Linked DNA regions of Homo sapiens. The protein of the gene in region 1 purifies or fractionates together with the protein of each later gene. This does not show direct contact. Each region holds a gene or a part of one and is shown in the gene's direction. Other genes may lie near its edges.

The links. Proteins that work in one complex are often made in the same cells at the same time.
Region 2: the proteins of SEPTIN11 (region 1) and PRCC purify together in Homo sapiens (affinity purification with mass spectrometry, with the first as the bait; one large-scale study listed by BioGRID). This does not show direct contact.
Region 3: the proteins of SEPTIN11 (region 1) and RAP1GDS1 purify together in Homo sapiens (co-immunoprecipitation; one large-scale study listed by IntAct). This does not show direct contact.
Region 4: the proteins of SEPTIN11 (region 1) and SMARCA2 fractionate together in Homo sapiens (co-fractionation; one large-scale study listed by BioGRID). This does not show direct contact.

Annotation. Positions count from the first base shown.
Region 1 is NC_000004.12:77,029,449-77,033,537, forward strand, and holds part of SEPTIN11 (septin-11), read left to right. Parts: intron 1-1,334; coding exon 1,335-1,522; intron 1,523-4,089. UniProt on the Homo sapiens protein: Filament-forming cytoskeletal GTPase. May play a role in cytokinesis. May play a role in the cytoarchitecture of neurons, including dendritic arborization and dendritic spines, and in GABAergic synaptic connectivity.
Region 2 is NC_000001.11:156,784,535-156,788,034, forward strand, and holds part of PRCC (proline-rich protein PRCC), read left to right. Parts: intron 1-2,073; coding exon 2,074-2,640; intron 2,641-3,500. UniProt on the Homo sapiens protein: May regulate cell cycle progression through interaction with MAD2L2.
Region 3 is NC_000004.12:98,264,384-98,267,883, forward strand, and holds part of RAP1GDS1 (rap1 GTPase-GDP dissociation stimulator 1), read left to right. Parts: intron 1-3,500. UniProt on the Homo sapiens protein: Acts as a GEF (guanine nucleotide exchange factor) for the Rho family of small GTP-binding proteins (G proteins) that stimulates the dissociation of GDP to enable subsequent binding of GTP.
Region 4 is NC_000009.12:2,018,347-2,021,846, forward strand, and holds part of SMARCA2 (SWI/SNF-related matrix-associated actin-dependent regulator of chromatin subfamily A member 2), read left to right. Parts: intron 1-3,500. UniProt on the Homo sapiens protein: ATPase involved in transcriptional activation and repression of select genes by chromatin remodeling (alteration of DNA-nucleosome topology).

The DNA of each region.
Region 1 (4,089 bases):
CATTTAAATAAATTTCCTCGTTTTCTTGTTTTAATTTATTTTGTCTAAAAACTACTGAAATTTAGAGGCTATTTAAATAGCTAAGCACTCAAGATGGTTTTGCTGCAGAGAAAGTTGAGCCTTATTTGCTGTTGGCTTCAAGAACCAAGGGGATGCTGGGTAAAAAATCTAAAATTGTCTAGAATTCCTTCCTTTCCTTTTCTTTTTCATTTTCTTTCTTCTTCCTTTGCTTTTCTTCTTCCCCTTCCTTCCCTCAAGGGCCAGAAATTTCCCAACACATTATTTAAGTAGCTAATACATAATGCATATATATATATATACACACACACACACATATATATACACACACATATACACACATATATACATACACATATATATGTGTATATATATACAAACACATACATATATGTAGTCATTGTATATATTTCTAAGTAAATGTTTTTTATACATTTCGAAAAAGGACCAGAGGTAAAGAACCACTTTTACCACTAGGGTGAGTTTTTTGTTGGGATCATAATTATTTTTGGCCAGGTGCAGTGGTTCACGCCTGTAATCCCAGCACCTTGGGATGCCAAGGTGGGAGGATCACGAGGTCAGGAGTTCGAGACCAGCCTGGGCAAATGGTGAAACCCCGTCTCTACTAAAGATACAAAAATTAGCTGGGTGTGGTGGCGCATGCCCATAATCCCAGCTACTCGAGAGGCTGAAGCAGGAGAATTGCTTGAACCCAGGAGACAGAGGTTGCAGTGAGCTGAGATTGTGTCACTACTCTCCAGCCTGGGCAACAGAGCGAAGGAATTTTTAGTCCCAAGGAGTTCTAGTGTCACAGGAGTCTGGGACTCTGAGGGATGCTCTTCAGCATCCCAGCTCAGCTCCTCCAGGAAGTCAGCAAAATGGTACTTTACACCTGTATTAAAGCCAGTGCAGCCACATGACACATATTTGTTTGTTTTCTTTTATTTTCTTTTGAGACGGAGTCTCTGTCACCCAGGCTGGAGTGCAGTGGTACGATCTCAGCTCACTGCAACCTCCGCCTCCCAGGTTCAAGCAATTCTCTGCCTCAGCCTCTTGAGTAGCAGGGATTACAGGCACCCGCCACCACGCCTGGCTAATTTTTGTATTTTTAGTAGAGATGGGGTTTCACCATCTTGGCCAGGCTGGTCTTGAACTCCTGACCTCGTGATCCACCCACCTCGGCCTCCCAAAGTGCTGAAATTACAGGCGTGAGCCACCGTGCCTGGCCATGTTTTGTTTTTTGAACAGATCCAAAGAACTTTACATCAAAAGGATTTTCATTCCATTCACCAAGCCTGTTTTCTTTTTCTCTCCAGCTTCACGAGAAGTTTGACCTTCTAAAGCGGACACACCAAGAAGAAAAGAAGAAAGTGGAAGACAAGAAGAAGGAGCTTGAGGAGGAGGTGAACAACTTCCAGAAGAAGAAAGCAGCGGCTCAGTTACTACAGTCCCAGGCCCAGCAATCTGGGGCCCAGCAAACCAAGAAAGACAAGGATAAGAAAAAGTAAGCAGGTGTCACCCCCCTGTATCGGGGACCTCTAACAATTTATTCCTCTTGCATGTCTCTACTTTTCCCATTTACAGACTGGAAACTGGTCCTTTACCAGAAAGATAAAAGCAAGTATTTTCTCTACAGTGCAGGGAAGATGATGAAGGTTTTTAAATTTTTTTAAAAGGTACACAAAGATTAATTTATAAAACTTTACCACAATTGACCAAGCAATCAGGCCTGGAGGAACCTGTTGTCTCCAGTAGCATCTTCCACACCAACACTAGGAGTCTCAAAGAAGACAGGTTGATGTCTCTTCAGCACCCTCTGAAGACAATTCTCATGACTCTTGATAGAGAGCATCCTAAAATCACAATTGTTAAAATTATTTTCCTATTCTGTGTTGTAAGACTTCGTAAGCCAGTCACTGAAATTCTCGTTCCCAAAATGAAACATTTGGAAGAGCTGCTAGTGGCCACTAGTTTCCTCAAAATTCAATATGATGAATTGTTTTATTGTGAAATGGGATCCAAATGCCTATCCAGTTGACACCTCTGCCAACCTCAAGCCAAACCTAAACCCATTCATAAAAGGTTTTTTTTAAATAGGGTCTTAATGTCATGTGCCAAAGGGTCAGATTCTGCTCTTGAGTTGGTCACTTCCTGTGATACTCCAGTAGCAGCTGCCTGAAACCAGTGGGAGATTTAGGCCTCCCTTGACATTCTCCTGTGATTTGAAGCTCTCCTTTGAATCATCATAAAGCCTAGTTTTATGTCAATGCTATCGGTTTTGACAGGAAGCACGATGGTAAGAATACCACTAACGAAAACCTTTGTGGTGTCTCAATGACAAATATGCAGATGCCACCCTCCTTTGTCTAATGTACGGTGCTTTAGGGCAGCTATTTAATATAAAGCAACTCAGAACTTGTTTCAGGAAGTGTTGCTCTTTCGCCTTACATGCCAAGGTTCTAGGGAAAAAGCTGACCATATGTAAAAACATTGATGCTCAAGCACATAAAGAATTACATTCTTTAAACATAGAGTACATAGGATCAAGTCTCTGCACAATAATTGAGATGTGTTATAGGGAAAAGTGAGCACAGTGCTATTGTCCACTTAGTCTTGGTGAATGTGCAGTAGGCTCACCCCTAAGGAATCTCATGTTGCCTGCAGTAAAAATAAAAATGGACTGCTACAATGACATACTGAGAGAGTTTTAAATCATGCTTTACAAACTGACATTCTGAGCTCTGAGACAGCAGAAAATGTATCACCAGAGCAAGGGAGGAGGCAAATGTTCTGAACAATAATTGAAATGGTTGTGATTTTATTTGGAGTTGGCACAGATCCAAGTGACCAAAGGAGTTCAAGGCCCAAAATTTAGTTATGCTGGATTAATTCTGAGAGTAACAAGCACATAGATTATAATCTAAGAAAACCCTTTGTAGCTATGCATGTCGGGAGAGCATCTAACACTAATGGTGATGTTTCCCATGCAGAGACTCAGATTACAGTGACTCTTCCAGTGAAGACAGATGAAAGCCATTGGGCATTGTACCTTTGTTAATCCAAGCTAAACTAACCAAGGATATAGGGGTGTGTATGTGTCTGTGTGTGTGTGTTTGTGTGTGTGTACACATACATCTATAGGTATGAATGAGACAAAAAGCTGCTGACTTACAGCTTAGGAAATGCAAAGTCAAGTTTTTCTTTTCACCCTGAGGCACTCAGTGCATAAAGGTTCAAGTTTTAAAACTAAGAATGTTTCCAAAAGACCAGCAATGTTAAAAGAGTATTTCGTGTATACTAGACGTGCCTTTAAGCAATAAAAATTCCAAGAGCTGATCATTATTGTGCTTCCATTTTAGAAAAGTTTATTTAGTAACAAACTTCCCAGTGTAGGGAGGTTTTTCCTTGCCCTTTTGAACATGTTAGGTTATTTTCTTCCTATCCTGGGGCCTTACCAATGTGTAATGCTTTCAAAGTTTCTATGAAGCCTGTGTGGATTCTATTTTAGCTTATTTATATATTCTCATTTATTTTGAAGGATATTATACTTAATTTGGTTCAGAGTAGTCGCCAGGTTTTGCACCTGACAATGGCACATATTTTTTGTATAACTTTTTCTAGGTCCTTACCCTTTTCCACACTTTACATTTGTACAGTGAAAGCAACTGCCAGTGGAGGCCTGAAATGTCCAAGAAAAAAAAAAATCACACCTCTTACTGCCAGTGGTAGTGGAGTGTTTTGGTTAGAGGGACCGCAGAAAGACAGTGGCCAGGCTAGACAGAGCAGCACTTTGAAAAGAGCTGGGAAGATGCCTCCTAGCATAGCTGGAACAGATGTGGGAGTTGCCATTCAGGAACTGACTTTGTTATAGGTAGAAAATGAAAAGGCAGATGCTTACTTATTTACCTGCTATGCTTCCACCTCCAAGCCTAACTTAGTTTTTCTAATAGTTTTAAATTCTCTTTTTTCTGTTCTAATGACACGCTCCTTTTTTAATGTAGGTAAGGCTTTATACTTCTCCTTGACCTGTAGTGGCATGAGAGTGTATAACATTTCCTAAGATGACAGGCA
Region 2 (3,500 bases), on another chromosome or scaffold:
CCTGAGGGTGTGCTCCGCCCTGTACCTCAGTGTGGTTCCTATGAACCGGAGCCTCTGGGCGCTTCCAGGCTGGACCAAATCTGTGAACACACACACAGCAAGAAGAGCCCAGTCTCCACATGAGCAGTTCTGTGTGGCTTGACTCAAATGTCTTATTTACTCTGGGCATTTCTTGGCTGAGAAGGCTGGAGTACACTAGTACTCTAAGACAGTGACACAGTGACCTTATTCCATTCTCCTTTTCCAATTGGCATTTCCCTTAGCTCTACAGTTAGGCCAAACGGGCCTTTTAGCATAGAGAAAGCAGAATCTGAGAGATTCTTTTGGGTAATAGGAACTCTGGATGGGCTGGGCCAGTGAGCTTACAGATCAAAAGTTAAATGCTTGACTCTGGCATTAACAAGCTAATATGCCACATCTATAGGGCTTTCCTTGGGTAGGGTAGGGGACTTTCTTCAGATTAAAAAAATACAGCATATATATATATACACTCATTTCTGGCTGACAAAACTACCTCTGTATGTATGATGGCACTAAAGATACTAAAATTACATATTTTTGTAAAAAGCAGTAATGTCTTAGATTAGGGAAATTTGCAAGCTGAGTAAGTCTGAAAAGAACTGAAGATGATCTTATAAAAACCCTTTCAGTCAGCTAATGTAGAATTCTATGGTCTTAAGTAAAAAATACCCTTAGGCCGGGCGCTGTGGCTCATGCCTGTAATCCCAGCACTTTGGGAGGCCGAGGTGGGTGGATCATAAGGTCAGGTGTTGAAGACCAGCCTGGCCAAGATGGTAAAACCCCGTCTCTACTAAAAATACAAAAATTAGCCAGGCATGCGTGGTGGTGAGCACCTATAATCCCAGCTACTCGGGAGGCTGAGGCAGAGAATTGCTTGAACCTGGGAGGCGGAGGTTGCAGTGAGCCAAGATCATGTCACTGCACTCCATCCTGGGTGATAGAGCGAGACTCCGACCAAAAAAAAAAAATACCCTTAGCACTTAAGTCCTAAGGGAGCTGCCCCACCCAAGCTGAGGCTTCAGGTTCCTATCTAAGGGGGGGAAAAAAAAGAGAAAGGAAATCCTGTTTCCTTTGCTTTGGGGATGGTGACAAGGAGAGCAATTTAAAGGGTTGGAAAAAGCTGTGTCAGGCCCCTTGCAGTCTCTGGACTCACTGCTTCCTTGTTGAACGTGCTGGGCCTCCACTCTTTCCTAGGCGTCATTAGCGCTGCTGAGGGGTCTCGCTCAGGGTTAGCTTTCTCCCTTGGTCAGGGGAAGGGACTTTTTTTTTTTTTTGAGAAGGGGTCTCACTCTGTCACCCAAGCTGGAGTACAGTGGCATGATCTCGGCTCACTGCAACCTCCGCTTCCTGGGTTCAAGCGATTCTTCTGCCTCAGCCTCCCAAGTAGCTGAGATTACAGGCACCCACCACCATGCCTGGCTAATTTTTGTATTTTTAATAGAGACGGGCCTTCAGTATGTTGGTCAGGCTGGTCTCAAACTCCTGACCTCATGATCCGCCCACCTTGGTCTCCCAAAGTGCTGGGATTACAGGCGTGAGCCACCACTGCCCAGCCGGGAAGGGACTTTTGCAACAGTATGAATGTTTCTTTTAGACAGAACCTTGTTCTTGATTTTGGGTAGCATTCCAAAGGAAGGAGAGGGTTCTTGTGTTAAGAGGTCCCTTCAGGACACGGAGAGAGGTTGAGTGATGAGCTGGAGAGACCTGGGCTTTTGGGGAGGAAGGACGATGTGAGGTTAAGAGCATCGTATTTGTTGAAGACACAGAGTTGAGGAAGGCTCGCTCTGTGGAAGAGGGCAGTGGAGCTGGGTTGGGATGGAAGAGAAGAGGAATGATACCTCACCTTGGGAGAAGCAGCCCGCAGAAAGGCCTGAAGTAGCAGGAGTCAAGCCCAGATTAGGTGGTCTGAGTGGACGGAGGTAAGGAAGAAACAAGGGCTGGTAAGATTTTAGGCTAGAGAACTTATCTGTAACTGTTGTTTTTGGTGTTGCTAGTACATAAAATCTCACTTGTCATCTTTCTTTCCTCCTATCCCACACCTGGGCTCACCAGGGATCCAGTGAGGGGACTGGTTTGTCTGCCTTGCTTCCCCAACCTAAAAACCTGACTGTGAAAGAGACTAACAGGTTGCTCCTGCCCCATGCCTTCTCCCGCAAACCCTCGGATGGCTCCCCTGATACTAAGCCCTCCAGACTGGCTTCTAAGACCAAGACTTCCTCTCTTGCCCCTGTTGTGGGCACCACAACCACCACTCCGTCGCCCTCTGCTATCAAGGCTGCTGCCAAGAGTGCTGCCCTGCAGGTGACAAAGCAGATCACGCAGGAAGAAGACGACAGTGATGAGGAAGTAGCCCCCGAAAACTTTTTCTCCCTCCCTGAAAAGGCTGAGCCACCTGGAGTTGAGCCATACCCTTACCCCATCCCCACTGTCCCTGAAGAGCTGCCTCCAGGCACGGAACCAGAGCCGGCTTTCCAGGACGATGCAGCCAATGCCCCCCTTGAATTCAAGATGGCAGCAGGTTCAAGTGGGGCCCCTTGGATGCCTAAGCCTGGGGACGACTACAGCTACAATCAGTTTTCCACATATGGCGATGCCAATGCCGCTGGTGCTTATTATCAGGTGGGTAGGAGGCACAGAGGGCAGGCGAGGGAATGTTGGAACATGGTGGTCAAGGAGAGCTTTGAGCTAGTGATACAGCCTCTGTGGTGTCACTTTGGCTAAATTAACCTTCTCTATTTATTAGGCCACAGAACATACCTTTATTCTGAACCATATTAATCTAAATTGCCCAAGTCTTAAAGTGTGACAGGGTGAACCACATAAATGACATCTTTATTCTGAAAACAATCTATTTATTTTTTATTGATCCATAATATTTGTACATATTTGTGATTGATATATATATATATATATATATATATATATATATATATATATATATATCTGTTTTTTTTTCTTCCTAACCTTTATTTTAGGTTCAGGAGGTACATGTACAGGTTTGTTACATGGGTAAATTGCATGTCACGGGTTTGGTGTACAGATTATTTTGTCACCCCAGGTGATGAGCATAGTACCTGATAGGTAGGTTTTTGGCCTTTTTTTTTTTTTTTTGGAGAAGGAATCTCACTCTGTTGCCCAGGCTGGAGTGCAGTGGCACAATCTTGGCTCAGCTGCAACCTCTGCCTCCCGAGTTCAAGTGATTCTCCTGCCTCAGCCTCCCGAGTAGCTGGGACTACAGATGTGTGCCACCCTAACATGCCCAGCTAATTTTTGTATTTGTATTTTATATTTTTTGAGACGGAGTCTTGCTCTGTTGCCCAGGCTGGAGTGCAGTGGCACGATCTTGACTCACTGCAACCTCCGCCTCCCAGGTTCAAGCAACTCTCCCACCTCAGCCTCCCAAATAGCTGGGACTACAGGCACATTCCACCATGCCCGCTAATTTAATTTTTGTATTTTTAGTAGAGACGGGGTTTCAC
Region 3 (3,500 bases), about 21 Mb from region 1:
GAAACTCTGTCTCAAAAAAAATATATATATATATTCTCATGGCAATAATTTCCTACACAAGAGAGTGAAAGAAAAGTCCTATATAACTTTATGGCCATAGCTACTATTTTATGTATATGTCATATTTCAGATTCAACATACATTTAGTGTTTGTTGGATATCAACTGTGCAGTGTACTGTACTACAGTGTACTGGGAGGACAAAGATAAAAAGATATTCATGTTTCACATTTATAATCTTAGCAGGAACAATATGACACATACACAAATTATAATAGAAGTAAAAGTATAAGTTATATAAAAGACCTTTACATATATTATAGATTCAGAGAATGGAGAGAACGTTTTAGAGAAATGGTGTTATTTGAACCAAAGGTGGGTTAAACTTCTTAAAGGTAGAAATGAGACTGTTAATCAGAATGGAGTTGGTCTGGGGTTGGAAGAGAAATGACATAAATGAAGATAGATAGGAAACATTTTATGAATTTCCAGGATATGATTAAACAGCATTGTTTGGCTAGAGCAAAAGGTAAGGAAATAGTGGGTAACAGACATGAAAAAGTAGTACAGTAATAGCTAATGACCAGATAATGTAGGATCTAAAATGCCAAGCTGAAGAATTTTAATCTGACTTACCTATTGAGAGACCACTAAACATTTTTATGTAGTTAAGTGATGGATCACATCTGTGGTATAGGAAAATTTGTCAGTTGAGTGCAGGATCGATTAGATGAGAAACTACAGAACACTTCAGAAGATTGTTGTTGGAGTTTGGACGAAAATGTTTAATGGCTTGAACCAGGTTATGGCAACGGGAATAGAATATTGCAAATAAAGAATAGGATTTACTTGGCAACCCATTGAGTATGGAATTGAGAGTCACAGGTTTTAGCCTGGGTGATAATGAGGATACGAGAATCTCCTGATACATATTCAGTTAACAGGAAGAGGAAACTTAGATACTCAATTTTGGACCTATTGCATTAGACTTTTTGGTCTGTCCTTTAGTCTCTGCTCCTTGATAACAAGGACGTTGTCATATTAGGATTTGAATACATTTCTAACACTAGTGTCTGGCACATAGTAGCTACATAGAAAAATTGTGTTGACTGACTGAAACTAGATAAAAAATAGTTGACAAACATTTATTTTAACTTTCGAGAGTACAATTTGAATTAGAGATCTGGAAGTTATCCACAAATATCCTGAGGTGATATTTGAAGTTAGATCAGAGGACAAGAGTCAACAAAGAAAAAGAGGAAAATTGTTCATGGTAAGAATCTTGAGGAATGGGGTTCCTTAAGTTTTCCGTAGTTAGGGAAAAAGGAATGGTATGATTTCACACTGAAAAACACAGAAGTCAGAGTGAAAGACTAGAATTGGTATATGGTTGGTTTTAAGAAAGAGTGAATAGTTAATAAGGTCTGTTTTTTCAGAACAGTCAGGAGGGTGATAGGGACTGAGAACAGGCTCTAAGTGCTTTGGTTAGGATATTACCCAGTATATTTTTCTAAAAAGCCACTTTAAGAGGTTTAGTAGATATGGAGGTCAGTTGTAAAGGCTAAGTGAATAATAAGTGGAAACAGTTCACTAGGTATAGTCATGCTGTATTTCTCACCTTGTTTAAAGATCTGTGAGAAAACATAGATTTTTAAAAATATTTTTAACTCACTCTGCATGACAGATATTACATTTTAGAAAATATTTTAAAATTTTAAATGTATTTTAATTTACAAATTAAAAAAATTATTTTAATGTTACATTTTACATGGAAGGACATGTGCTGTTTTCATGTCTAAGGATAATTTTTAATTTCACCATAGTGCCTCACATTTCTCTGACATTTCATTTTTAATGTCTTTGTGACTTAGTATAGTACAATTTTTATTTTTATAATGTCTGTCATGCAGAGTGAGTCTAGAATGATTTTATAATTTTGCATGGCATTTTGCCTAAACAATACTCTTTACTGATGAATGGTTTTATCACTTTTACTCTTAGACTTTGTGAATTTGAGACTTCTTTAGATTATAGGTATGCTTCTAATTATATTTTTAATTCCTGGAGTTGTAGTTTTCTCTGTAGATAGGTATCAAACTTATAGTCATTTTATTTTGCCTGTATTTCCAAGTCCAGGAATGGTTTTCATAGCTAAATAATAAATACTAATTTTGCCTGATCTTTGCAAGTCTAGGCAGGGTGATAAAATATTTTTGAAAGCTGGTAATTACTAAAATTTATGATTTCAAAAAAGCATAGATGCTAGCTTGGTAAATTTAAAAATTTTTCTTATGTTGGCATTATATCTGTTTTGTATATGTCTTTTTTCATATGGGAGAAAGGTTGAATTCACTATCCTTGGTAGTCATATTCTGAAGTCTGTACTACTACTATTTGAAAAATTATAATAGCCTTAACTCTTTTTAAGAACCAAAATGATTTTGCTTTCATAGTGGAATCTTGGAATTTCTAGGTGACTTTGGGGAAATAGTGTGGATGCTCTCCAGAAATTCCTGATTGAACCTGAGATTGAACATAGCAATTCTGGAGTTATTGGTGGCACTAACAACAGCCATCAGAATTACCTAAATTTTAATATCCAGTCATGAACATCAGGAGGAATGAAGGAGGAAGATTCAGTCCTTTGGGAACCTGATGTAATTTTAGATAGCCAAATGTTTGGATAACTGATAAGGAAAAAGTTTAATTTAAAATACATGTTGATGTTGAGTTCAGTTTGCCAGTATTTTGTTGAGGATTTTTCTATTTATGTTTATTAAGGATATTAGCTTGTAGTTTCTTTTCTTGTAGTATCATTGTCTGGCTTTGGTATCAGGGTAATGCTGGCCTCATTAAATGAGTTTGGAAGTATTTCCCTTCATTGTTTGGAAAGAGTTTGAGGAGGATTGGTATTAGTTCCTTTTTTAAAATAATTTCAACTTTTAGTTTAGGTTCAGAGGGTACATGTGCATGTTTTTTACATGGGCATGTTATGTGACACTTTGGAGTATGAATAATCCCATCACCCAGGGGTTTGGAGTATGAATAATCCCATCACCCAGGTAGTGTGCATGGTACCCAGTGGGTAGTTTTTCAGCCCTTGCCTCCCTCCATTTGTCCCCCTCTAGTAGTCCCCAGTATCTGTTGTTCCCATCTTTATGTCCATATGTACACCCAGTGCTTAGCTTCCGCTTATAAATGAGAACATGTGGTATTTGGATTTCTTGTTTCTATGTTAATTTGCTTAGGATAGTGGCCTCCAGCTCCATCCATGTTGCTGCAAAGGACATGATTTCATTCTTTTTTGTGGGTGCATAGTATTCCATGGTATATATGTGTCACATTTTCTTTATCCAATCCACTATTGATAGGCACCTGGGTTGTTTTCATGTCTTTGTTATTGTGAATAGTGCTGCGATGAAGATCCAAGAGCATGTGCCTTTTTGGTAGCATGATTTATTTTTCTCTGGAAATATACCCAGTAATGGGATGGCTGGGTCA
Region 4 (3,500 bases), on another chromosome or scaffold:
AGGTTGTCTCTTTTTTTTCCTCCTCCCTAACCTGATGGAGGTTGGTGCTTTGGAAAAAGCAAAGCGACCTGGGCTAGTAATCTTTTGGAGAGGTGTCATCATTGTCTCCTTTCTGGTCATTATGTAGGCATGTATGACTTTGTATGTGTACTGTTAGAGCTCAAGGAAGACATTAAGGATACACAGTTTGTTGACTGCACTGAGCGGTTATTTTTAACATTTCTGCGTTACCAATATCGAATTTCAAACTTCCATTTCAAAGGACTTAAAATTTACACCTGGTTGTGTGCCTTGCTTGTCTGAACAGAATGCTTGCATAAATAATGAGATTGTTGCTTGGGCGTTGAGTAGCAGAAAATTTCTATCCAACCACCAAAGACTCAGAAACCATTGAGAACCCTAATAATAATTTAAAAAGCCATACCCAATGTTATGTGTGTGTATACTTACATATTCACATTCAAATATTTTCAGTAGTATTTTCCATCTGTTATCAGGGGGGCCACAACCAGAAGCTTGTTGGCCAGCATTGGAGTTTTAGGCTTCCAGGCTACCTCTAGCACACTGGTGAAGTGTTAAGAGGCGTGGCAGATTTGAATCCTAGTTGCTGCATTGTTATGCAAAATGAGACACACTTTTTCTTTGAGGAATCTAATTGCTCTTTTATTCTCTTGGACTTTCTTTCTTTTTTTCCTCAAATGCTTCTTTACAATGCAAATGTTTGCTATTGTAAAGAGGGGATTTAGAGACACCTGTTAGGTCCAAAAGATACTTATTGCGGTAGACTGAGGGGAAAAAAAAAAACAACCCAGTAGATCAGAGGTCCGTCTACCTTGGGGGCATCAGAGAGATGCCATTTTTGTAAAGAACATTTCAAATGAATGAGGAATGTGGGGTATCAGAACCCTTGAAGAGGGTGAGGGGAGGGAGGGCTTCCTTCAATGCAGCCTTTCTCTTATGACTTATATCAGTAACAGCCCAGCATCAGGACTAGGTGCACTGTGGTGTTTCACAGAAAATATTCACCACAAGAGCATGTTCAAAGCAGCCTTAGATCTTTTCTTTTGTTCGTTTGTAAAGTGGTTTTTGAGCATTTCTCGTCAAGTTTCTTGAAAAGTGCTTTGACCAACACCTGAGGCTTAGAATTGACAAAAAAAAAAAAAAAAAAGTGCCTCGGCTTGTATTATATTGTTAATGCTTGAATTCTATTTAAAGTATTCCTGACATGGTATAACTAGAAAGTGACACTTGTGCAGATAAGTATTTAAAATTTTTTTCTTTTATTAAGTTTAAGATAAATCATTCTACAGGCCAGTATAAAAGCATATCACATCCTTTTCTAAAAGGTAATTGTGATGCTCCTTATATTGTTGTAATATTTTGACATTTATTATTATGTATTACAGCAAGAGCATAAAAAGAAGAGTTTTATAAATTATAAAAGTGGTGCTGTCCTCCAGTGTTTTCTTGTTTTTTTTTTTTCTCCTTTAGAAATCTTCCTTTGTAAACAAGGCCTTTGTCAAACTCTTCTAGGTCAGCAGCTTTTTGATACCCCAGAGAAATAATAAATCACTATTTATGACATCTTGACATGGTGCCATGAGGACAACTGAATTATCACATATGTAATACTAAGGACTGTTTCCCAGCATTTGCAAGTGGAAGGAGTGTTGGTAGGACCTGATTTAACCACTTTAAGATTTGATTCTGTTTCTGGTCAAGATGATTTAAGGGACGATAGGGACAAATTCTTTGGTTAACTTGAGTTACCTTAGAAAACTATATGAGTTACATTTCTTTTCTGCTGTATTTCTTGTGAACAGATGAGAAAATTTCCCTAGTATGAAAGCCACATTTAGGGGCTATTTCTGATTTCTCCTTTTTAATGTAAAAGAATTATCTTCTAAATTGTTTTTTTTTCCCCCTTAAATATTGTGTTTTGGAGATGTCTTTGGCCAATAGAGGATGTGAATTTTCTGTCATTTTTGGAAGCGTTCTTATTAGGGGACTCTAACCTTTAGCCGGTTAATAAAGCCATGGGTCATTCGCTAAGTAGTGAATAGAAAATACACATGGTGGTAATTTATTTGATAGCATATTTAGGAAGGCCTGGAGTGATTATTTTTTCTATATAGAAACTTATGACTTTATACTTACTAGGGACTATAGGAGTCTAAAACTATGTTCTGCCAGAGTCATTATGAAAGAGAGCATATTTATTTACGTAAGATATTTATCATTAAGTTAAATGGGATCTTGCAACCTGGGCTGGCAAAACTGCAGCTTTCTTACTGTTTATTATGAGTTTATTATTACCCATGTTAATATAGCACTTTTCCTTGAAAGTGTAGGATATGTTAAAGAGAGCTTTTAAGTAGTAAAAGTTATAAATATATCGTCAAAGATGCTTGAATAATTGTACCTCAGAAAAACATACAATAGAGCCAATGAAATTCAGGAACAAAATAGCTGGTCTTTTGAATGTTTGATATAAACACCTCATTAATTTACACATTTGGAGTGATGGTTTAGATATGGAATACAAGATTTTGGCCTGAAACTCTGACATAATGTCCTTCTGGACTTCTGGGTTTGTAATACATTATTATATAATTGAAGCCTAGTATGAATTAGGATATTTTATTAGATAGCTACGACTTCCAGAATATTTGAACAATTGTAATCTGGCCGTATACCTGTAAGATTTACAACAGTTTTTAAAACCACAATATTCTATAGTATTTTTAGGTGGATTAGTATCAATTTAAGCATCAATCTTATGCCAGTATGTCATCTACATCTATGCAAGCAGTAATATTTTAGAAACTTTTTAGAAACTGGCCTAATTTAAATATGGGCTGGCCCTTTTGTAAGTTGATGAATGGGACCCACAGAAGTTGAAATAATATTTAAAGTTTGAAAACCATTAAATATAATTGAAACTCCCTCCTTTAAAAAAAACAAAAACAACTAAACTCAGAATTTGGAATTCAAAATTACTTAAAAATGATAAAAATCTCTAACCAAAAAGGAACGTCATATGTTGGCTTACAGGTTATCCAAGGGAAATTCTGTATCAGTTTGCACTTAAACTGTATTTTTCTGGTTCAGGATGATTATATATTTCTTTACCTACTTGATGTGGTATATTTCAGTTTTTACCATCCCACTGGGAGATGCTTTATCACACATGGATATTGGATGTCCAGAAGGAAAGCCCTCTCCCATCTTCCCCCCTGTGCTTTGTTGAACTGGACATGTAATAAATGGCTTTGCAAATAGTCACAATTATTTTGTGGCTTGCTGTTGTGCTATACTAAAAGACCATTAAGCAGAGTCCAAAATTCTGTAAAAAATAGATGATCTGTAATTGATAATTTATGTGTCTTAAAGAATGTACCTGAACATTTAATATTGTATTTATAATAGCATATTGAATACAAGTAACAAATGGTAAACTGCATGGGCCATGTGATACAGAGAGAGAGATCAGGGTGAGC